3 separate regions of the Homo sapiens genome follow, and all the other regions are linked to region 3. The links come from fine-mapping of genetic effects on gene expression. A gene starts in region 3. Each other region holds a variant in brackets. All regions are shown on one strand. Distances are between the middles of the regions. Region 1 holds the start of PRR18 (proline rich 18). Region 2 holds the start of LOC107986668 (a long non-coding RNA gene). Region 3 holds the start of SFT2D1 (SFT2 domain containing 1).

The links.
Region 1: its variant is fine-mapped to the expression of SFT2D1 in whole blood (TOPMed, PIP above 0.99).
Region 2: its variant is fine-mapped to the expression of SFT2D1 in whole blood (INTERVAL, PIP 0.91).

Annotation. Positions count from the first base shown.
Region 1 is chr6:166,301,513-166,309,692 of GRCh38, reverse strand. It overlaps PRR18 (proline rich 18), which reads left to right and starts at 1,301. Exons shown (of 1, transcript NM_175922.4): 1 at 1,301-4,393. The coding sequence starts at 1,551. The coding sequence ends at 2,438. It overlaps LOC107986669 (a long non-coding RNA gene), which reads right to left and starts at 2,145. Exons shown (of 3, transcript XR_001744464.2): 1 at 1,970-2,145. RefSeq lists an enhancer at 869-1,148 and a silencer at 1,219-1,818. The variant A/G (reference allele first, on the strand shown) is at 4,269.
Region 2 is chr6:166,255,681-166,263,834 of GRCh38, reverse strand. It overlaps LOC101929297 (a long non-coding RNA gene), which reads right to left. Exons shown (of 5, transcript NR_125862.1): 5 at 6,888-7,094. It overlaps LOC107986668 (a long non-coding RNA gene), which reads left to right and starts at 4,804. Exons shown (of 2, transcript XR_001744463.3): 1 at 4,804-6,132. RefSeq lists enhancers at 4,543-5,410, 4,623-5,822. The variant C/T (reference allele first, on the strand shown) is at 3,200.
Region 3 is chr6:166,338,818-166,346,997 of GRCh38, reverse strand. SFT2D1 (SFT2 domain containing 1) reads left to right here and starts at 4,453. Exons shown (of 8, transcript NM_145169.3): 1 at 4,453-4,579. The coding sequence starts at 4,517. LOC100289495 (a long non-coding RNA gene) reads right to left here and starts at 4,367. Exons shown (of 2, transcript NR_040022.1): 1 at 3,851-4,367. RefSeq lists an enhancer at 3,628-4,521 and a silencer at 4,583-4,742.

The DNA.
Region 1 (8,180 bases), 37 kb after region 3:
TCAGTATCTTAGGACCTCACCTGTCAAGCCGATTAACAGCCTGAGCCCACCGGCAGAGACAGGCTGGCAGGGATGGAGGGAAAGTGCCTGTGAGCTGGGAGGCTTGTTTCAGAGCTGTATTGGGGTGGCTTGGGAGGTGCTGGTAGAGATGACAGGGCCCAAACCTGTCACCCCAACCCAAGCTCTGGTGAGAAGTGTTTCCCACCACCTGCCAGGTTTCCTTGACGCTCCCATGTATCCACAGCGCAGTTCTCTGAGGCCACCAACAGTCAACAAGGGGAGGCGTTGCTGCTGCCTCGGAGACTGAGGCGGCTGGGGGAGGGCCATGCTGTCCTGCTGTGACTGTTGGCACAGGGCACATTTGTGTTTACCCACAGTTGAATGTGCTCTGGAGCTAACCTGGGGCCGTAACCATCACACACCTGGTTTCCATCAGAAAAGTGTATCTGATGGAAAGTACTTTGTGGAGATCTAAGCAGCTGATGATTATCCTTAAGTAATGCAGGGACTGCACACATGAAATGTTGACTTTTTGATCCGTCACTTTGCAATTGTTCAATTATTTATTAAACAAACATTTGAATATTGTAGGATGTCTTCATGTGTCTACGACTAGAATGTAAATTGACAGTGAAGATTTATCTCATTAATTCTGAATCTCTGCTACAGTGATAAATATATTGCTTTGCTCATAAGAATTATTAAAGGGACTTGATGTCTAATATTTGCCATGTAATCAGCATTATATAGCTGAAACTGAACTATTTTGCCTGTTCATAGATACTTAGGTTTTGAATTTGAAAGTGACTCCTCAAGGGGTGGCATGAACACTATGTAAGATTCACTGAGGGTCATTTCTCCCCTCTCAGCTCCAGCCCGCTTTTCTCTGTGAAGCAGGATGTGTCCGGGGCCGCAGAGCTGCATCTACTGGCGGTGCCTTTCCCGCCGTCTCGAAGGCACGGAGAGGCTACAGGGGATTTTCTCTGAAACGTGCAGGGCCTCCACCTGTGACTCCGGAAGGCTGCCGGCTCCCCCAGGGGAATGCTCCTGGCTTTCGACGGACTACATTAACCTCGGACCACCGGAGCGCCAGCTGGGGGAGCCCCGGGATGCCTGGCGCGCGCTCCGCCCTCCGCTGTCCTGGCACTTTGCTCCCATTCAACAGTCGGTCGTGACACCAGCCGGGCACAGCCCGGGGCCTGGCAGGGCCGCGTCCTTAGCGAGCGCGCTGGGCTCCTCCTCCTGCCGGCCCGGCCCGCGTCTCAGCTGTGGGGACCCGGGGGCGCCGCGACTCGCCCACAGTCGGACGGCGGGAGGCGGTTCCTGCAGGGTCCAGTCCCGGGAGCACCCCCAGGAGGAGGGGAGGGTGGGAGCGCCTCTCTTTGAGTCCCCGGGTTTGGTCGCTGGGATGTGAGGAAGCCGGAGAGGCCGCGGCTGGACGCAGGTGGGTGTGGAGGGGCCGCCCGGACTGCGGGGACCCGCTCCGCGCACAGTGGCTGAGCGCCCGCCTCTCTTTCCAGGGGCTGAGGATCCGGCGGCTCGGCTGCACTATGCCCTTCCCGCCCATGCCGCCGCCGCCCGCCCCCGCCCCGGGGGCCCAAGCCGCGCGCCAGTTACCCCGGAGGCCCTGCGCCGCGGGGGACAAGAAGAAGAGGCCCCCACAGCGGCCCGAGGGGCTCCTCTCCAGCTCCTGGCCCTCCGCCACGCTCAAGAGGCCGCCGGCCCGGCGCGGCCCCGGCCTGGACAGGACGCAGCCGCCGGCCCCTCCGGGCGTCTCCCCCCAGGCCTTGCCCAGCCGCGCGCGGGCCCCAGCCACGTGCGCCCCGCCCCGGCCGGCAGGCTCCGGCCACAGCCCAGCGAGGACCACCTATGCGGCGACCTCGGCGGGGACGGGGACCACCGCCGCGGGCACCTCCTCGGGGGCGGGGCCTTGTCCAGACTCCGCTGCGCGCTTCTGCCTGAATCTCACCCCCGAGGCCGTCCTGGTCATCCAGAAGCGTCATCTGGAGAAGCAGCTGCTGGCGCGGCCCCGCAGGCCCTTCCCCTCACCCTCGGCCGAACCCAGGCGCCTACTCGCCCCGTGTCTCCCGGCTAGGGCCGCGGGCCCGCGGAGGGGCGGCCCCGCCAGCGACCCCGACGCACCCCCCACCGCCGGCCAGGGCCGCCGCGCGCCTCCGCCCGGCGCCCAGCTGCTGCACGGCGGCCTGCAGGTTCCCCAGCTCAGCCCGCGGCCCGGGGCCCTGCGGCCGATGCTCAAGGTGTCGCTGCTCAACGAGCGGCACAGGTACGACGACGTGGAGTACGAGGAGGAGCCAGAGGCGGTGGACGAGGGCCTGGTACGCAAGTGCACGGAGTGGCTGCGCGGCGTGGAGTCCGCGGCTGCCGCGCGGGGCCGGGCGGGGGCCCTGGACTCACGGCGGCACCTGAGCACGCTGTGAGCCCAGCGGGCCTGCGGGGACAGGCCAGGCCTGATCCCACCTCACTTCCTGCACGCGCCACTCCGCCTAGGGGCCCTCGGGGGAGACCGCAGGCTCCTCTGGCCGCCAGCGCCCACTTTCGGGACACCAGTGCGCAAGCTGGCCCACGTGGGGCGCAGCCAGACTCGCCCGACGGCCACGGCCCCCCTCCTGCCCTCGCCAGCCGGCAGCCCGGGCCTTTCTCGTTCACACCGGTGGTATCTACCCCAGATGCCTGCCTCTGCCCCCACTCTGGCCTCCTCTTGGCATCGCCGAGCATCCATGCAGTTCGTGGGGAATTAAGCAACTGAGAAAATGCCTCTTGGTGCCCCGACCCCCAGGGTTCGTCTAGGTCCCAGAGACCCTCTGCCTGGAGGCGGGCCTTCCCCAGGGCTACATCTGCACGCCCCGTGGTGTCACCCTCAGCCGGCGCCGGGCACCCTGGACAGTGCGGTGGGCGATGGCCCAGGTGGGTGGCCGCGACGGTGGCCTCCTGCAGAGCTGGGACCCGGTCCTACATTCGTGATTTTGTTTTCTCCCAAGTCAGAAAAATGTTGAGGGTATTAGACATCCCTGAAACTCAGTTAACCGAATTTCCAGTCTCCAAAGCGGAAGGGTAGGCATCGCCAGGCGCTGGTGAGCCCTGGTCAATGAGCGCTTCCATGGAAACCGCTCGGCTGATTACATTTTTTCTGTGTATTATTTGAATAGAGAGTAAAGCTCCTCCGCTGTTTCGTAACCATATCCTTTCCCCCGCTAACTGGAGGCTGATTTCTACATATTTCTTCCATGTATCTGAGAATATCTAACTAGAAGGATGAGAAGGAAATAAAATGTTATAATCAGATAAGGCTGGTTATAAAAGAGTAATGTATTACCTCAATTTTTGACTGACTTTGTAAAAGCCAATAACTGGTTTAATGTTTATCTTGATAGACTTTAAATGTATCAAGTCTTAATTGTATTTTAAATTGAAGCCTTACATTTTTAAAACAGATTTTGTATTTTTCTTGTGGAGGTCTTTGCTCTAATAACACACACACACTGTCTCTCTCTCTCTCTCTCTCTAATTCTAGGCACACATTTAGTTAGATGTGAAGCATTTAATTCATTGGGAGCTAGGTCAGCTGCCAGATGAGTTGCAAAAACAGAAAAAAACCTACCCATTGAATAACTTCTTTGAATTTGGAGATAAGTTTTCTTTTACTTAAAATGAATATATTAATTCTAGAGGGGCAAAACTAGCAATGCTTATGCAAGTGACGGTGCTGCTCTTGTTCCACCCCCACCCAGATGGTCTCTGAGTGCGCCGTCCTGGGCAGGGCACACGGTCTGGAGCTGAGAGGGTGGAGCAAGAGTGCACTGACTCCGAGCCGAGGGCAGGAGTGGCTCAACTTGGTCTCGTCTTGCACTTAGTGCAAATACCAATAATTAAGATGCCTAGACTTCTGCCCTTGGTCACAGTAACAACAACATTTTGAAGACTTTTCCCTGGTGGCATCCTAGAGGGACCGACTTTCTGCAGCCTCTGTCTTCCAAGCTGAGCTTCTGCTGCAGTGTGGCTGTCACTGCACCTGTGTGTCTCCCTGACGTCCCTGTCAGCTGCTTCATTTTGATTTCCTTTCTTCTCCCGCCCTTTCTGTAGGCTCTGTCCCAGCATCTCCTGTTCTTAACTGGCCACAATACAACACTAAGCGCATTTTTAGTAATTTGTATTTATTAAATAGAGTTTGTGGGCCTTGTTCTCTACTTTAAAAGCAGATGAGTGGAACATTTATGTTTCCCTGGTCAATGAGCTTCAATAAAAAACAA[A/G]CAGAAAAAAGGTTTTACACGTGACACATGATATCTTTTCATTGCTGTTAAGGACATTTTGAGAAAGTTTTCTAAGTCGCTATGCTCCAATTTCTTAATGCTTAAATAAAAGAGAAATTCAGTGACTTGTGATTCTTTTTGAGGGGGACACTGAAAACTGGTCAGGAAGAGACTACTGAGGGATTTACAATTCACATGACATGATTTCTTCATAGTGGCACTCAACCTAAGGTTCTGGGATTTCCAGGAGTTGAAAAAGGTTTGCTGGTTTTAATCACTACTAGAATTTTTAAAAATCACTACCAGGATTTTTAAGATAGTCAAATACTGTAAGGTTATTTGGCAATGACATTTGACCTTTTATGGGGCCACAAATCCCCGTGAAAGCTATATTCCAAAAGGACTCCTAAAACCGTGTACCACATAGCAACAAAACATTGCATATAATTTGCATATATTTTAAGAAGCTCATGGGTCCCAGGTTAAGGACTCCTCCTATATACACTCACTAGAATATTTTTTTTATTTTGCCTAAAGTAATTTCATACTGGTAGGTCATACCAATCAGAAATTAAAGGGTCAATTTGAATAATTGCTAGACTATTAGATTACTATTATATTATTATCAAATTCTCCCATAACTGTAATATCTCATAGCAGGGACTGAGGAGGACTTCCATCCCAGGAGAGAAAATTGGGTGCCACTATGTAAGTAAAAGTGTTGCCAGTTCCAAAGATTGAGCATATATGTGACTTAATTCCCTCTATTTAGAGAATAGCTGGCACTTTAAGATAGGTTTTTATGTTGATCTGCCTTATTTCTAGAAAAGTGGATGCCAAGTTGTCAGAACCATTAGTTGTGGGGTTTCCCTGGAAATCACGCGGTTCAGTTTAGGGTGGGTGATCTGTGGGATCTCTGCTTTTCAGCCAACCGTGGTATATCATTCAAAGAAAGTCTGAAAATAACAGTCTCTCTAGTAAGCAAGGACACTTTTGCATCAACAGAAATGCACACACAGGCCTTTGTGACCTCTGGGAAACCTGGATTGATGTGGTTCCCCAGCATGGCCTCTGTCCAGATGCTGCCTGGGTAAGGGCACAGCTGCTCCCATGGCCTGTAGTGGAGGCCCCTTGGTCTGGCTTGGAGTCAGAGCGCCCCTCAGCATTGTGTGGGAGAAGGTACCGCACCATGGTTCAAGGTGGGTTTTGGTGCCCTAGAGGCTGGAGTTGCCACACTGATGCTGTCATTTATCCACATCTTTCATTAAACTTCCATGTCTGTTTCCTCTTCTGTCTGTGGGGATAGTTGAACATAGGTGACCCTGGTGAGGATTATGAGGCAATATGCGAAGCGTTCCCCCAGCTCAAAGTTAACTGTAATTTTTACTATTTCAAAAAAGTCTTTACTACTCAAAAAACTCTGGCACTCTTGTGCACATTCAAAACCTCCCTAGTTACAGCATTCTGAGATTTTTATCTTTAACCATTTAATGCACACCTACACTTTTATATTCCTGAGGAATTAAAAAATTAAAATGTCTATTGTGTTTTGCCTTCTTATCTCACACTTAATTATTATGTTATGAGCACAAAATTTAGCTCTGAGCTTCCTGGTAGCAGAGACAAAGTTTAAAGTAAGAGTCATATAATCTCAATATCTAATAACAAGAAACACTTCTTGGAGAAAATTGTTATGTGTGTATTTGGATTATATACAACACAATGGATAGTAGTATCCTTAAATGCAGCTTCTCGAAGATGCCTAAGTGTTCTTGTTGTTTTTTTATTTTTTGAAACGGAGTCTCACTCTGTCACCCAGGCTGGAGTGCAGTGGCGTGATCTCGGCTCACTGCAAGCTCTGCCTCCTGGGTTCACACCATTCTCCTGCTTCAGCCTCCCCAGTAGCTGGGACTACAGGTGTCAGCCACCATGCCCGGCTAATTTTTTTGTATTTTCAGTAGAGACAGAGTTTCACTGTGTTAGCCAGGATGGTCTCGATCTCCTGACCTCGTGATCCACCCTCCTCGGCCTCCCAAAGTGCTGGGATTACAGGCATGAGCCACTGCGCCCGGCCAAAGATGCCTAAATGTTCTTTACATTACTATTAGCTCTTGATGAAAGCCAGTGGGGTCATTATCAGCGACATCCTTGCTGGAACTGGACCATCCCACCTTATGGAGGTGGTGTGGATGGAAACCTACAAAATACAGTAGGGAATCTTCAGGAAGCAGTTTTAGATCTGCTCAAATATTTAGCAAGTACTGCCCTAGTACCTCAGACAATTCGACATCAGTCCTTAAATGTTTGGTCTCGTGACCTCTTTCTAGTCTCAAAAATTATTGAAGGGAAAAAAAGTATTGAGGGAAGCCAAAGAACCTTCTTCAGTGTAGGTTTATCTATCAGTACTTCCTGTATCAGAACTAAGAGACCCTAGAACAATCAAACTGCTGGTTTCATCCATACCATGTTGGCTCCTAGTGCCTGCTGTAAAGGCTGGGTTAGCTGCATCTGAAATGGATGGGAAGTGTTTTAAGAAACAGATATTCCAGACCTCAGACCTAGGGATACTAATTCAGTAGATCTGGGAAAGGGCTGATGTGCCACCAGGTTGGGAGCCATTGCTATATGGCAAGAAATACACGACCAGGCTCAGGAAATACTTCAGGCAGATTTTATTGAAGGTGGATTTAACCAACTGTGTCCTCTCACAAGAGACCCTGCAATGCGACTCTGTCAATATAGAGTCTCCTTTTCTAGGTAGTCATGTCTCCCTTCCTGGCCATGTGTTTTCACGGCAGGGAGGGTAGGATGCAATGACCAAAAATAACTAAAGTGACCCCATGTCATCAGCCTAGGCACCGTCCAGCTCATAGAATTGGGAGTGCTGGCCACTCCACTTCTGGGGGGCCTTGCCCCACATCTCATTCATCCGGAGTCCCCGCCCTTGATGACTGTGTCCTAGGTCTTCCCTCGTCTACCTCTGTCAGCATAATTATGAGAGCCTCCCAGATACAAGCTTCTACAACACAGCACATGCCACTCCCGATGCCACTCCTGATGCCACTCCTGATGCCATCCTGTCACCAGAGCGGGAGGCAGGCTCTGAGAACTGCAGATGCATGGGCGTGTCCTGAAAAGCCAACCCCAGACAGTGCATGGAGCTCAACACCTGATTTTACGAGGAAATTATAACAAGTATCTGTTGAGTATTTCACTTTGAGCAGGATAGTATGCCAGCAGGCCCAGAATTGTTCAGTTATTATTCATTCAAAAAATATTTACCCTGCCTCTACAGGATGAAGGGTATCTGAGACACAAAACTAACTGGAACTGTTCCTTACGTAATCTAATGGGTCAGCATGTCCAAAGGTGTATCCAGGTCTGCCGAGAGCAATGACTTTGGTTTGAGGACAGTCAATATTGAGCGGTTCTTTAGGACAGCCATTGATCTGTATTTGTTTACTTGGGCCAATTTAACAGAATACCACACACTGGGCGGCTTAAAAAACAGATACTTATTTTCTTATAGTTCTGGAGGCTGGATGTTCAGAATCAAGATGCCGGCAAGGCTAGTCCCTGGTGAGGCCTCTTTCCTAGCTTGCAGACGGCCGCCTCCCACACTGCGTCCTCATAGAGCCTTGGTATCTCTTCCTTCTCCTACAGGGATGCCAGTTCTGTTGGATCACAGCCCTCACGTATGTGCCCGTTTAACCTTAAAATTACCTCCTTAAAGGCACTCTCTGCAAATATAGTCACAGTGCATTTAGAGCTTTGATATATTAATATTAATTTGGGGGTGTTGGGGACAAGATCCAACCCAGAACGTGGTCTGTGGTTTCAGTTGCTTTTTAAGGCCACTTATGGAATATGATAGCAAGATAAGATCCTCAGCTTCTTCCCACCACTTAGGTG
Region 2 (8,154 bases), 83 kb after region 3:
ACTGTGAAACAGAGATGGGCTGCTGGTGGTCACTGGGATGTTGCAGAGTCCTCAAGAGCAGGTTTCCCTGGGGTGGAAATCTAGCCAGGCCCTGGGCAGGCTTACCAGGGGCCTCATCTGCATCCCCTCAGAGGTCTCTGAGATAAGGAGGGATGAGGGTACCCAGGACTTCTGAGGACACCTGTGAAGAGGTCTCTGGTAGCAGGACCCCGATACCCCCAAGAACACCCTAAAGATATGCCCTTGACTTGAAGAATGGAGCCATCAGCAGTGGAAAGAACACTTTCGATGTGTGATGGTGTTAAAATACATTCCACCTTTGTTTCTTGGAACTTAAAGCAAATTCTTGTAGAGGACGGTAACTGAAAGAGCTGCCCCTTAGTTTGGAGATGGGGTCCTATCATGGTGGAATCTTCCCCAAGCCCTCCCACCTCCATTCCAGGAAGAGACAAGAGCTGGGGTGTCATCCAGCAGGAAGAATGGGGGCGCTGCTCCCCTTCTGCTTGAGCCTGAGTTGGCAGGCTTGCTGTGGCTGCGGGGATGGCAGCTGCGCCTCCTGCACAACGCAGGATCACAGCCACAGCAGTGGGGACCTAGACAGCTGGGGCCACTAGACCAGGCCACCAGACAGACAGAGGGCTGGAGAAATGCAGAGGTGGCAGCAACACACGCAGGCAGGCAGGCAGGCATCAGGGGCTGTCAGCAAGAGAACCTAAGATGCTCGTGGCAGTAGAAGTGGGCCCCTGGAGCGGCCCGGCAGTTCCTGGGTTGGTTCTGCAGACCTGAAGCTCTCCCAGGTCCTCGAGGACCTCAGGCCTTGGCCTTCCTCAGCTCTCCTCAGAGGTTTGACCACTTACTCTGTCAAATGAGGTAATGAAAGGGAACTGGCGACAGGTTTAGAATGTATTACACAATAGGCCGTGAGCGGTGGCTCACGCCTGTAATCCCAGCACTTTAGGAGGCCGAGGCAGGTGGATCATGAGGTCAGGAGTTTGAGACCAGCCTGGCTGATATGGTGAAACCCCATCTCTAGTAAAAACACAAAAATTAGATGGGAATGGTGGCGTACGCCTGTAGTCCCAGCTTCTTAGGAGGCTGAGGCAGAAGAATCACTTGAACCCAGGAGGCAGAGGTTGCAGTGAACTGAGATCATGCCACTGCACTCCAGCCTGGGTGACAGAGCAAGACTCCGTCTCAAAAAAAAAAAAAAAAACAATGTATTATACAATAATAATTATCTATACGGAAATGTTACACTCAGGGCATGGGAATCAACTCCAGAAAGAAATCCAAAGTTCTAAAAGTATAAGATATCATAAGCCTGGAATAATGAAATGTGGGAGAGGAAGTGCTGAAGAATCAGGGCCCGCTCTCACATTTACACTCTGCACACACTATGCACTAATCACAAGCAAGGCCAATCGCGAAAAGCAGGGCTTTTTGAATGAAAAAATTCGTTCATCTCAACGGTGGAGATGTTCATTTTTGCTTATTGGAGATAAAATAATATAATCAGAGACATCATAGTTAAGCTTAACAAAATAACATTATTAAAAACTTTTATACACAATGAAAAGGAACTTTGTTTTGTAAGAGACAATGAAATCTGAAAACAATAAATGTAAAAAGATGATACAGGTTTACATCCAAAATGCACACGGATTGATATGAATGTATAGGCATGAACATATAATCCACACTTTGCTAAACAAGTAGTCAAAGGATACTTACGCTTTACACATCAGCAGTAACCACGTATATTTATAGATTATGTGAAGCCTCATAACCTCTTCTTCGTGACGTAAAGGGCAGGTGTGACCATCCTCTTTCCACGCACTGGATACTGAGAAACGAGCTTGGTGCAGGCATCCTGGAAAGCAGTCTGGCTGTCATAATGGAAGCAGGGCCATTGTCCCTATGCTTTGGCTTCTTAGTGTTTTTTGAAAACTATAATTCAGGGGTATGGTGAAAATATTTGTACTAAAGCTATTTTTTTTTTTTTTTTGAGATGGAGTCTCGCTCTGTCACCCAGGCTGGAGTTCAATGGTGTGATCTCAGCTCACTGCAAGCTCTGCCTCCCGGGTTCACACCGTTCTCCTGCCTCAGCCCCCCGAACAGCTGGGACTACAGGCGCCCGCCACCACGCCTGGCTAATTTTTTTTGTATTTTTAGTAGAGACGGGGTTTCACCATGTTAGCCAGGATGGTCTCGATCTCCTGATCTCGTGATCAGCCCGCTTCGTCCTCCCAAAGTGCTGGGATTACAGGCGTGAACCACCGTGCCTGGCAGTACTAACGCTATTGATAACAGCCAAGTTAGCAATAACTCAAATGTGCAACCATTGAGAAATGCATGTATCACACTGCGTTATGCTTATCTTTTCACATAATGTATGTCTCCTGGCTAGATGAAAGTTTGGGGTTAGGAACCTTATCTCAGTTATTTTTATTTCCTTGGCATTTGATAGAATCTGGCACATAAACACTCAATCAATGTTTACCAAGAGGAAATTAGCTGAATTGAAGTAGGTAATTGGGTGTAACAAAGTTACCATAATTATGTAAATTATTATGTGCTACATGGAAATATATACACAATATAATTAAAAAATCAAAACACCAAACAAAATGTGTGCAGCAATTCCAACTAGGTAAATTATAGATGTCTATCATGAGAGAAAGCATCATTTGTAATAATGGTAAGACAAGTCTGGTTGGAATCACAGTGAGACCTTGTTCTAGTTTTTTAACAAGCCTCAGTTTGTTCACCTGCGTAATTAAATATCTACTTTGCAAGGCTGTGGTGACTATATATTCAGTTAAACCCACATGGAGTATAGAACAGAGTTTGGCTTATAATGTGTAAAGCAGATAATTGTTAAGTAATAATGAAATAGATGTTCTAAAGAAAATAGAACCCAGCATGGAGCCTGGCACTCGGTAGGTGCTCAATAAATAGAAATCACTTTTGTTATTTTTAGAAATAGAGGGGGACATAGTGATGTTCAGAGTTAATGAGTTAGTCTAAAAGTGTATTTGTGTAAAATCAACTATAATAATACATGGTAAAAACAAACAAGTCAGAGAAGGAGGGAAGTAGGATACATTTTTGAAACTGTCAAACAAAAAAATGTTTTAAAATGTATTTTTAAATCCTGCTACCCACATGTCTTAGTCCAGTTTGTGCTGCTATAAGAGAA[C/T]ACCTGAGACTGAGTAACTTACAAAGGCCAGGTATTTATTTCTCACAGTTCTGGGGCCTGATCAAGGCCCTGGCAGCTCAGGCCTAGCCTCACTGCTTCCAATATGACACCTTAGATGCCGCATCCTCCAGAGGGGAGGAACGCCATGTCCTCACATGGCAGAAAAGCAGGAGAGAGAGAGAGAGAGCAAGAGAGAACACCCACTCCCACTGGCCCTTTTTATAGGGGCATTGAACCATCATGAGGGCACAGCTCTCATAACCTAAACACCTCCCACGAGGCCCTACCTCCCAACACTTTTGCACGGGCAACTAAGTTTCTAATTCATGAATTCTGAGGGGCACATTCAGACCTTGGTACCAGGCAACCCGACCATCCAGCCTGTCTCATTGCCCTAAACTTTAGGTTTGCTGAAGTTTTACTTTTAGATTTCTAGAGTAGAAAGGGACCTTATAAATTGCTGCTGCTTATTTCATTTATACCTATTGCTTGAAAGAATTTGATGTGGCTTATAGTAAACACACACACACACAATCACACCTTTCTTTTTTTTTAAGAAAAGCAAATATAATTGAATGTTTAGGACAGAATATCAAATTATAGCTCATTCAGCAAATGTTCGCATCCTTAGCATGGTCAATCTTCATTTGTATTAGGATACAAACGTCACAATAGCCAGTGTGCATACAGCACTTGCTATGGGGCAGGCACTGTTGTAAGCACTTTGTGGGGATCAATTCAACTGGCCAGCACCCCGCTGTGGGATGGGTTCTATTGTTGTCGTTTCCAGTGTGCAGATGAGAAAAAGGAAGCACAAGAAGCTCATGTGACCTCTGCTGGGAGGCAGCAGGGCTGCCAGCTGAGCCCTATGGTCTGGTTAGAGGCCACATTCTGAAACATCACAAGTTCTAAAATGCTGAGGGGACTTTCTCAGAAAGTTCAACCGAGTTAAGGACAGAGACACATCAACAAGCATACTGTCTAAAACGTGCTGGGTGCGAAAGACACATGAACAAGCTTACTGTCTAAAACGTGCTGGGTGCGAAAGCAGCAATGTATCCGTGACCTTTTGGTGGAAATGAAGATGACGCTGCAAGACACTGGGCGGATGGGAGGCCGGGTGCTTTGCTCTCCGGGACCCTAAGTTGATAAAGAACCAAGTTTCAGGTTGGGCGCGGGAGCTCACGCTTGTAATCCCAGCACTTTGGGAGGCCAAGGCGGGTGGATCACCTGAGGTCAGGAGTTTTGAGACCAGCCTGGCCAACATGGAGAAATCCTGTCTGTACTGAAAATATAAAAATTAGCCGGGCGTGGTGCTGGGCGCCTGTAGTCTTAGTTACTAGGGAGGCTGAGGCAGAAGAATTGCTTGAACCTGGGAGGCAGAGGTTGCATGAGCCAAGATCTTGCCACTAGATTCCAGCCTGGGTGACAGAGCGAGGCTCTGTCTCAATTAAAAAAAAAAAAAAAGTTTCGAAAGCTTGGAGGAAGAAACAGCCACTTTAGTTTCCTGTCTTAGTCACCTCGGGCGGCTGCGACATGTGACCGCAAACTGGGCAGAGGACAGCCACAGAAGTTTATGTCTCACGGTTTGGGTCCAGACGTCCAGAATTGAGGCGTCGGCCTCTCCAGATAGCAAGAGATGGTGCTGTCAAGACAGTGTAAGCCCAGGAGCCCAGGTGGCTGGGCTGTGTCTGCACAGCCTTTGGATAAGGCCTCAGAAAGATCATAGCCTCAGCATTCTGCCCCACCAAGGGTGCCTTAGAGAGGTCAGGGCTGAGCCTCATGGATCGAACCAGGGAGCCCCTGAGGAGCCGAAGGGCGTTGACTCCGAGTCACCTCGGCAGGACTCAAAGATAGAAAAGGCTTGCCTCAAAAACATCGGCAGGTGAGGCCTTCGGCTCATGGAGTAGACCCAGGTGAAATCCATGAGAGACAAAGATTTTGAGGAAATCACTTTCACAGAAACACTGCCAGCCTGGGTGGGAAGGAACAGAGAGAGCACAGGATGAAAGGAGGCTGCCAGACTCCCCAGATTTTGCTGGCTGGAAGTAGGCTAAAAAGCTCCTCAGCTGCAAACATGGGCAACCTTTCCTTCCAAACAAGTGCAGTGTAGATGCGGGGACCAAGAGCCCAGACAGGGAATCCAGAAGCCAGGAGAATTCTCCCCAGCCCTGGAAACCTGACTGAGAACTCCCAACCTTTACTTTTCTGGATTTGGAATTGCTACACAGTCAAGATGCCTTTTATCTGCCATTTCCTCCCCTTGAAAACTGAAATGTCTACAGCTGCATCTGGTGCCTGCTCCACCACGGGACAGGTCACTAATCTCTTTAGCTTCCCGGGCCCATCCATGGAGAGGAATTGTGTCCCAGAACCTGAACCGAATGATTGCACCATGACCCTCCACTGACCTTTGACCTGATTTAGATGTTGACATTTCAGGCTTTGAGCTGATGCCATGAAGCTCCGAAAATCTTAGGTACCTAGAGCAGGTGAATGACTTTTGCACATGCGAGGGAGGCAGGGGGGCGTGTGGCAGACTCCCAGGTGCCTCCAGGTGTAACTGCCTTTTATGTAGTCATCTCCCCTGAGTCACAGAGAAGGACTGGTGACTGACTTCTAACCAACGGCTACAGCAAAGGTGATGGGATGTCACTCTGGGGATGACTCACATCACACAGGACTGTCTTTTGGGGAGACTCGCTGTCTCCCTCACTGGCTCTGAAGAAGCCAGCAGCTGCCACAGATCCTACAACTGAAAGGAGCTGAGTGTTACCAAACACATGCGAGCAGGGGCATGCACGCTCCCCCAGTCAGACTCCGCATGAGAACCCACCCTGGACATAACCTGGCGACCGCCTTGTGAGACCCCAGCAGGAGAGCCGGCAAGTCTGTCGCTGGACTCCCGACTCACGGATTCGTTGAGATAATAGGTGTGTGTTGTGTTACATTGCTGCAGTGGGGGAATTTCTACACAGCAATAGATAACTAATGCATGCAATTTATTCCTTTAACATAAGTAAAGAGTGTGATGCCAGTTAAGTAAAGATTTTAGTGGCCACACAATTATTGGTTTGCATCATTTTTATTAATTTGGGCATATCTGTATTAGTCAATTTCTGTACTGCTATAAGGAACTACCCGAGACTGAATAATTTATAAAGGAAAGGGGTTTAATTGGCTCACAGTATAGCATGGCTGGGGAGGCCTCAGGAAACTTACAATCATGGTGGAAGGGGAAGCAAGGCACCTTCTTCACAAGGTGGCAGGAAGGAGAAGTACCCATTGAAGGGGGGAGAGCCCCTTATAAAACCAACAGATCTCGTGAGAACTCACTATCATGAGAACAGCATGCGGGAAACTCTCCCCATGATTCATTTACCTCCACCTGGTCTCTCCCTTGATATGTGAGGATTATGGGAATTATGGGGATTACAATTTAAGATGAGATTTGGGTGGGGACATAAAGCCTAACCATATCACTATCTTCCTTGTTGTTGTAGAGATGGTGTCTTGCTATGTTGCCCAGGCAGATCTCAAATTGTGGGGCTCAAGTGATCCTCCTGTCTTGGCCTCCCAAACTGTTAGGATTACAAGTGTGGGCCACCACACCCAGCCTGAGCATATCTTTAGAACATTTATAGCCCAGTTCACTAATAAAGAGATAAATGATACGACTTTAACACAATTTTTCATGTAGTAGTAATTTTTCCATATATTTTAGTCCTCAAGTTTTAGTTGTTACAATTTAGTAGATGAAACTTAACATAAAGCTTCATGACTGTAGTTCCAGCTACTCAGGAGGATGAGGTGGGAGGACAGCTTAAGTCCAAGAGCCCAGGAGCCTAGGGGTTCATGGCTGCAGTGAGCTCTGATCGTGACACTGCACTCTAGCCTGGATGACAGAGAGAGACGTGTCTATAAAAAATTTGTTTTAATTAAAAAAATAAGAAAGACTTGTAGGATGCAAAAGTATTACTTATTATGCTTTCATTTTTTACCGTTTGCCAGACAGCTCCCTGCACTTTGCAGACTTTACCTTATTCCCTGAGCAATCCTGGGAGGAAGGTGTTATTACCAAGTCTAATCTACAGTTGAAACAACTGAGGCTTGGAGAATGTAGTAACTTGCCCAAAGGATAGAGCTTGATTTGAGCCCAAGTTAGATTCACCCAAAGCCTATGTCCTTTCCATATATTATGCTATTTATTTACTAAGTTTTTAAGCTTTAGAGGAAAAGATTATTTCCCCTCAGTTTTACTCATTTATTCACTTTCAGCAACACATTTTTAAAATGAAGATCTTTACATCTTTTTAAATTATCATAATTATGTTGAACACGAGACAATATAAAGGCAAGCATTTTCTTTTGTTCTTTCAGCTAATATTTTAGAGTTTATTAGTTAAATGTCATATAAATACAAAACTAATCACTTTTATATTGCTAGTATTTCTAGTTGTTTGCTTCTCTCTCTTCCTTCCTTCCTTTTTTTTTTTTTTTTTTTTTTTTGAGACAGGGTCTCACTCTGTCGCCCAGGTTAGAGCTCAGTGGCATAATCATAGCTCACGCAGTCTCGACCCCCTGAACTCAAAAGATCTTCCCCCTCAGCCTCCCAAGTAGCTGGGACCACAGGCACATGCCACCACATCTGAATAATTTTCTGAATTAAAAAAATTTTTTCTTGTAGAGATGGAGTGTCACAATGTTGCCAAGGCTGGTCTGGAACTCCTGGGCTCAAGTGATCCTCCCGCCTGGGCCTCCAAAAGTGTTGGGATTACAGGTATGAGCCAGCCAGCTACGTTATTTCTTATTGTTTCTATAAATATTTGTGTCACAAAGAACCTTGCATTTTATATTTATTCTGGATAAGAATGAGCTTCAATTAAATTAATGTTTACTGAGCAATTGCATTAATTCAACTTATTAAAGTCAAATTCAACTTTAATAAGTAAATT
Region 3 (8,180 bases):
CCCTCTCACTACCCACATTTCCATCTAGGCATGTTCATGGAGGCAGAGGGCAGTTAAGGGGTAGATTTTCTTTATTTGCATCAAGGCCATTTGTTAATCACTGCAGAAGAATTGGTTGCAAACAAAAAATGGAAGCTTTATACTTTTTCCAGTCTATGCCCCTGCCTTACCTAGCCCAGACACTACATCTGAGGAGTTGAGATTTACAAACATTTGGGAAGTTTTTGCCCTAGAGTTTTCTGTACATTTTAGTAGATAAAGGGGATATTCCAATAAGGAGAAGGTATGTGTTTCGGAAAGTACTTTTCTACTCCTAACAACAAACGCCTCAGAATTTGAATTTGAAGTCCCACTGCCCTGGGGGACAAAGGTCCTCTGAGTCAGAAGCCACTAACCAGATGATCCAGCAGCAGGACTGAGGGTACCAGGGCAAGCACCAGCCCATGCCATCACCCACACAGAGCCCCAGGTATGCTTGACCATTGAGGGCCAGGAGGTTAACTGTTTCCTGGACACTGGTGCGGTCTTCTCAGTCTTACTCTCCTGTCCTGGACAATTGTCCTCCAGATCTGTCACTATCTGAGGGGTCCTAGGACAGGCAGTCACTTGATACTTCTCCCAGCCACTAAGTTGTGACTGGGGAAATTTACTCTTTTCACATGCCTTTCTAATTACGCCCGAAAGCCCCACTCCTTTGTTAGGGAGAGACATTCTAGCAAAAGCAGGGGCCATTATACACTAGAATTAGAAGGAAAAAGGTTAAATATACAGACTCTAAGCATGCTTACCTAGTCCTCCAAGCCCACGCAGCAATATGGAGAGAAAGGGAATTCCTAACTTCCGAGGGAACACCTATCAAACATGAGGAAGCCATTAGGCCCCCCAAATTCTCTTTACCTCTGAATCTACGTCCTCTGATCCCTGCCTAAAGATAATTTTGTGGGGAAGAGGATTTGCTTGTGTCTCTCCAGGTGACACTCAGGTGTCTGTGTGGGTGCCCACCAACCATCTGAAGATCTATCACGAGCCACGGCATCTAGTGGACCCACATGTAGAGTACAGTGCGAATTGAAGGTTTGAAAAGCCTCGATTTGCTTTCTCTATGCCTTCTGTTAATCAGAAAAGGCCTGTTTCTCATTATCAGTGGCCTCCCGGCTACAGCCACAAAAGTTTTTGCTTCTGTTTCAGTAGATTTACTAACGTGGGGGTGAGGGTATGCTTGTGTTTTTGCAGGAGATGAACAAACCGTGTGGATACCCTCAAGATGTGTACGACCATGGAATGGGAGACTGGAGGTACCCATGGATCCCAACCTTGGACCGGGTTCCCCCAGTGTGAGCCATGAGCCAGTTGAATCTGAATGCGAAGAAGGAATGAGGACCGACCGGAGTCACGATGCTTAACGGGCCAATGCTTTCTGACTCAGCTCCTCTCTACCCTGAATATGAGAGACCCTAACAGTTAGACAGGAATATCGTCACCCCTATTCAGCATGAAGAAGTTACAGAAGATGGACCTTCATCCTTCTGCAACCCCTAGGATTAAGGGTCTTCTTGTAAAAGGGAAAGGGGAGATATGTGGGAAGCATTCAAACCAGAGCCATGCTAGTAATAATGATAGCTAGTAATAATGATATCTTCTCTTTTACAATAAAGAGAAGGGGGGCATGCTGGGAAAAAGCTGAGTGTTGGGGGGAAACTGAGGCAGGGCTTGCATAATGTCCTCTGGAATGTGTCTAGACTTGCTGGCTCCTTGCTTCTAGCCTTCCTAGGCTCCTAGGCACCTATTCCCATTATCTCAAGTAGCAGAACATGTTCCATATAAATGCTAAACTGTCACAGCTGTAAATCATGTGCTTAATGCAACATGACCTCCACATTCTCACCACCTGTTTCTTAGTTGGATTACCAATAAACACTGTGGGCTCCCAGAGCTCGGGGCCTTCACAGCCTCCGCAATAGCAATGGCCCCTGTTGTCCCACATTTCTCTCTCAAACTTTTTTCTCAATCTTTTGACTCTGCTGGACTTTGTCACTCCCACAACCTGGTGTTGGGTCTGATCACCCCAACAATTTTGTGCATGTCCTTGTGTTCAGGAGTCATTGGCTCTTGAAAAAACTATGTGGCCAGGAAGCAGGAAGAGCTAGGAAGTAAGGTTTTTTTGTTTGTTTTTTGAGACAGAGTCTCACTCTGTTGCCCAGGATGGAGTGCAAACGAGCGACCTCAGCTCACTGCAACCTCCACCTCCTGGGTTCAAGCGATTCTCCTGTCTCAGCTTCCCAAGTAGTTGGGACTACAGGCGCCCGCCACCATGCCCAACTAATTTTTGTATTTTTGGTAGAGACGGGGTTTCACCATATTGTCCAGGCTGGTCTCAAACTCCTGACCTTGTGACCCACCCGCCTTTGCCTCCCAAAGTGCTGGGATTACAGGAGTGAGCCACCGCGCTCGGCCTATACTTGAAAATCTTGAAAGCAGTTATGTCAGATATGTGAACCAGAGAAGCCCATCTTGAATAGCGGCTGGGTAAAATGAGGTTGAGACCCACTGAGCTGCATTCCCAGACAGTTAAGTCATTCTAAGACACAGGATAAGATAGAAGGTCAGCACAAGATACAGATCATAAAGACCTTGCTGATGAAACAGACTGCAGTAAAGAAACCGGCCAAATCCCACCAAAACCAAGGTAACAAGAGAGACCTCTGGTCGTTCTCATTGCTACACTCCCACTAGCGCCATGGCAGTTTACAAATGCCATGGCAATATCACGAAGTTAGCCTATATGGTCTAAAAAGGGGAGGCATGAATCCACCCCTTGTTTAGCATATCATCAAGAAATAACCATAAAAATGGGCAACCAGCAGCCCTGGTAATAGACAGCCCTGCTCTGCCTATGGAGTAGCTATTCTTTTGTCCTTCTACTTTTTTTTTTTTTTTTTGAGACGGAGTCTCGCTCTGTCGCCCAGGCTGGAGTGCAGGGGCGCGATCTCGGCTCACTGCAAGCTCCGCCTCCCGGGTTCAAGCAATTCTCTGCCTCAGACTACCGATGTTCCTCTACTTTTTAAATAAACTTGTTTTCACTTGCCCTGAATTCTTTTTGCGCAAGATCCAAGAACCCTCTTTTGGGGTATGGATCCGGACCCCTTTCCCGTAACACTTACGGACATACTCTCTTATTCAACAGAAACATAGTTTTATTCTATAGATTTTACAATCTATTTTCTGACCTTTTAAAGTTAAGGACATAAGGATAAGACTTCTCATATTAGTATGAACAGGCCACATAGAAATATCTTCTGCCTAAAGGAAAAGGATGCTGAGCATTGGACCGTTTCATCACAAGAAGGCGCGACTTGCTTTCCTAGGGTTCCTGTGGTATTTGTTTTTATCTAATTGAGTTTAGATAAAATCTCTACTGAGGCAGTAGGATGGACAATGAAACTTTTTGAGGATCCACCTTTTAACTGAAAGATTTTAGGGAGGAAATGGAGTGGGCAAAGTAATCAAAAGAACAGGCATTCTCATTACCATCTTACCAAGCCTAGAAGCAAACAGAAGAGCAAAACCTATCACTTAATGACTTCTGGAGACCATATTAGACAGGCAGCCCTGATTTTTAATCTCCTTTCTTAGCATGGTGGAAAATGAGAGAGAGAAAAATGCCACTTCCCCATTTCTTAGTGTTTGTTCATCCAGCACGAGCCGGAGAACAGTAAACGCTTGTTCAATGGTTTCACTGTTCACACAAAACTGGAAAAATGGGTTGCATTAGCTATTCCTTTTATAAATAAGATTTCACTCTTTCAAACTCCTAGCTGACCAGTGAACTGAGTAAAGAAATAGCTCTCACAAGGGCAAAGGAGTGAGGCAGCCTCTTGCTATTTCTCCTGAGACGGTCTGAAATACAGCTCCTCGCTTTAATCCTGAGGCAGGTGTTTGTGTCTCCGGATGAGGACACCCAGCTGGGAAGGCTAGCGACGCCCCCAGGGCCACCTCATGGGTGGCAGGGCGCTCTTCGGAGCACGGCCACCTGCCCGCAGGAGCCCTCCGCTCTCCGATTCCAGGCGAGGGGAGGCGCATTCGGGGCCTCGACTTCTGGGAACCCGGGGTGCCGCGGACCCGCCCAGCAAGGCCCCTCGCGGGGCCCGGAGGACGCCAAGTGCAGGGTTCAGTGGTCGTGCCCCAGTCGGGTCTACACTCAATGGCTGTGCGCCAGCTGTGGGCAGGGGGTCCACACCCGCGCTGTGTCCCCGCGCGTTACCACGGCGCACCTCGCGGACAGTGGGAAGGGATAGCCCCACCATCAGCGCCCACTCCGCGGACTTCACGGACCACTACCGGGTCCGAGAGAAAGGCTGGTGAGCATGCGCGCATTGCTACGGCGGCCGCGCTGACGCACAGGAAGCGGGCGGGACCGGACTTCCGGCTGGTCTGTGGGGTTTCGGGTTCGGGGTTTCCTGGTGGGCGTCAGGGGCAGGCAACAGAGTGGCGGCCGCTACGGCCCTGTAACAGGGCCATGGAGAAGCTGCGGCGAGTCCTGAGCGGCCAGGACGACGAGGAGCAGGGCCTGACTGCGCAGGTAGCGAACTTGCGCCCTCGTCCAGTCCCGGGGCTGCCCGCTGGCCCCGGCCGCACTGAGGACCGGCCGAGCGGGTGGGGTGGGTGCGAGGCCGGGGGTCTGGGACTCCTCTGCCCGGCTGGTTGATTTAGGAGGGCTCCGCCTGCTTCCTGGGTAGAATTTGAGAACTTTCCAGTTTTCCATGCGGTCTACTTAAACCCACTTTGAGGCCCCCCCCCGACTCTCCCATCTGGCCTTCTGACTTAGGAATCCGCTAACGTCTGCCCTCGCTTTCCCAAATAATCCATCGCTCCCACGTACTATTTGGTTTTCTGAGCCTGGTGCGGGGTCTGGCCTCGGGCTGTGCAGCGTAAGTAGCTATGCAGGGCATTTATCCTGCAAGCTGCAGTGAGCCGAGACCCTAAAGCTTGTTGCATCTGTTTGTCTTTGGAGGTAAAGGTGGTGTTATGTGTGTGTTTGCTGGGGGGTGGTCTTTTGGAAATAGGGAGACTGGAGGAAAAATAAACAGGACATTGGTAAGTGAAATAATATTGAATTAAAATTTTTCTGTTAAGGCAGTGAGCCCTGGTAAGAGATTTTTTTTTTTTTCTTAATAAAAGCCCTTGTGTCTGCGCCTTACCAGCGAGACTTGATAAGGGTTACTTCCTCCAGCAAGAAGGTTAAAAGTAGCAGTGGAGCAGGAACTGCGGTGTAAGTTTTTTTGTTATTGCATGCGATTATATTGCACGTTATTGTGTGCTGTCGCAGAAGTTGGACGTTTAAAATTGAATTGTATTTCATAAGGATCTTCTATTTGTCTCTCCTGACTTCCTTGTCATTATACTTACTCAGCACTTGGTGTGGGTAGAGTTCTGGGCTACAGTTTTGGGTTCAGAGAGTGTAAGACAAGTATCTGTTCTCATTGCACTCTGTAACTCTGTATATTACCACAGCCACATGTGGCCAATGAATTTTTTTTTTTTTTTTTTTTAGATGGAGTCTTGCTTTGTCGCTCAGGCCTGGAGTGCAGTGGCGTGATCTCGACTCGCTGCAACCTCTGCCTCCCGGGTTCAAGCAATTCTCCTGCCTCAGCCTCCTGAGTAGCTGGGATTACAGGCACCTGCCACCATGCCCTGCTAATTATTTTGTGTTTTTAGTAGAGATGGGGGTTTCACCATGTTGGTCAGGCTGGTCTCGAACTCCTGACCTCAAGTGATCCGCCCACCTTGACCTCCCAAAGTGCTTGGATGACAGGCTTGAGCCACTGCGCCTGGAGCAATTAAATTTAAATTAATTAAAATTAAATAAAATTTAACATTCAGTTCCTTAGTCACAGCAACCACATTTCACATGTTCAGTAGGCACATGTGGTTAAAGGCTACTGTATTAAACAGCGCAGATACAGAACATTTGCATTGCAGAAAGTTCTATTGGACAGTGCTACTCTAAACTTTGGAGATGCAAAGGTAATATCACTTATCTTGAGCCCACTGTCTAGAGGGGAGAAAGATATGTGGAGAAGTAATCAATCAAAGATTAGAGTGACTGGCTGTATAGACAAGTGCTGTGAGTTCAGAGGAGGTGATCGTTCATTAACAAATATTCAAGTTCCTGCATATGTTTGACATTGTTCAAGATGCAGGTGTTAATAACAGTGACCAGTGCAAATACCTCTTTCACATGGAACTTAAATTTTAATTGGAGGAAACAGTGAATAAACAAGTATATAATGTGTCAGACAGCCACAGAAAAAGTCAGAGCAGGTTGAGGAGGTTGGGGTTGCCATATTACTTAGATAAGGCCTCCCTGCCAGGGAGTCATGTGAGCACAGCTCAGAAGAGCTGCTGGGATGTCTGAGCATCCTGTGAATAAAAGCCTCCAAGGCAGATACAGAGTCCCAAGTGGTGTGTGGTCAGCATGTTCAGGGCCAGTAAGGAGGCCAGAGGGGCTCTAGCAGCGGGGCAGAGAAGAGGGACAATTGTAGAAGAAAAGGTGAAGCAGGAAGGGGGATTCTCAATTGTGAGGGTTCTCATAGGCCATAGAAAGGATTTTAGCTTTACTCTGAGTGTGATAGGAAGCCTTTGGGTTTAGAGCAGAGTGGTGGTGTGACCGACTTGGATTTTAAAGGATCACTCTGGCAGCTCTGTGGAGAACAAACTGTAGAGGCAATGTTAGAAGCCCAGAGACTGGGCTGGAGACAAGTACAGTTGTCCTGGCAAGAGATGACTGTGGCTCAAATCAGTGATAGAAGTGGTTTAAAGAGCAAAAAAGCCTGTTTAAAAAACAAAAAAGTGGTCAGATTCTGTAAATGGTCTGAGTGTACAGCCAGCAGGCCACACTGTTGACGGATTGGATGTGTGAGAGTGGGAGGAGGCAAGGATGCCTCATGGCATTCGACCTGAGCATCTGGAGAGGTGGAGTTGCCATTAAGTGACTGTGGGAGGAGCAGGTTCAGGGAGGAAAATCATTTCAGTGTGGACGTGAAGTCTGAGATCCAGGTAGCATCCAAGTGGAGATGTGAGGAAAGCAGTTGGACGTAACACTGTAGAGTTTGTGGGAGGAAATAGGAGAGAGATGAGATCGTCAAGATGAGGTCCAAGGTTTGACCTCTGGTTTTCTCTAGGTGTGTAGAAGTTTAGAGGATGAGCAGAAGCCGGCAAAGACAGCTGAGAGGCGTGGCGAGAGAAGGAGGAGGAGAACCAAGAGAGAAGGATGCCCCAGAAAGTGAGGGAAGAGAGTGCTTTAGGAAGGGGATGGGACCCAGTACTGTTGATGGGTCTCAGAAGTTAAGAGCAGATTACCCGTGGAGGTTATCAGTTGTCACTTCCACGAGAGCAGTCTTGGTGGCTGGATGGGGTCAGAGGCCTGATTGAAGTCAGGGGAGAATAGAAAGAAGATGGAGATGGTATGGCCATCTCAGTGATTTTTCCTGTGGAGCAAAGAAGTGGGTGGTAGTTGAAGGATGCAGTGGGGTCGGGGAACATGTCATTTTCCCAAGGAAAATACTGGATGTTTCTGTGCATTGGGAATGGTCCAGGAAAGGGGAAAATTATGGTGCAGGCAAGAGGGAATTGTTGCTAGGGGGCTATTGAGGAGTGACTTGGAAAGCAGGTTTCTCTAGGGAGGAGGAAGGGGCAGGAAGTGGCAGTGAGGAGGGCAGACACCTAGCTCACTGCCTGTCCAAGTGGTACAGGATTCACAGGGGAGAGCCCTGGTCCTGGAGACTAAATTTCAAACCTAGCCGGAAGGTGAGAGGATCATCAGAGAAGAGGGTGAGGACATAGGGAGGTTTGCTGTTGGTTTTTGGAGATGGGTAGGAGATGAGATGGGATTAAAGGCGCACAGACCTGAATGGGGTGAGGGATGACCTGAGAGTGTTGCACGTCTTGTGCAGCAAGACGTAACCAGGATGGCGGGCACATTGGAATTGGGTCTTGACAGGGATGGTTCTAGGCCAGTTGAGGAGTTGGGCGAGGCAGTGAAGGTCATAGGGGAGCATCCTGACATCCAGGCTGCATCATCCTCCTATGCAGGCGCTTTGAGCCCCGGGGAGAGGCACGGTAGCCAGAGTTCTGGGACCTCTCCTTCGAGATGCCTGGGAAGAAGTCAAGGAGGGAGAGAT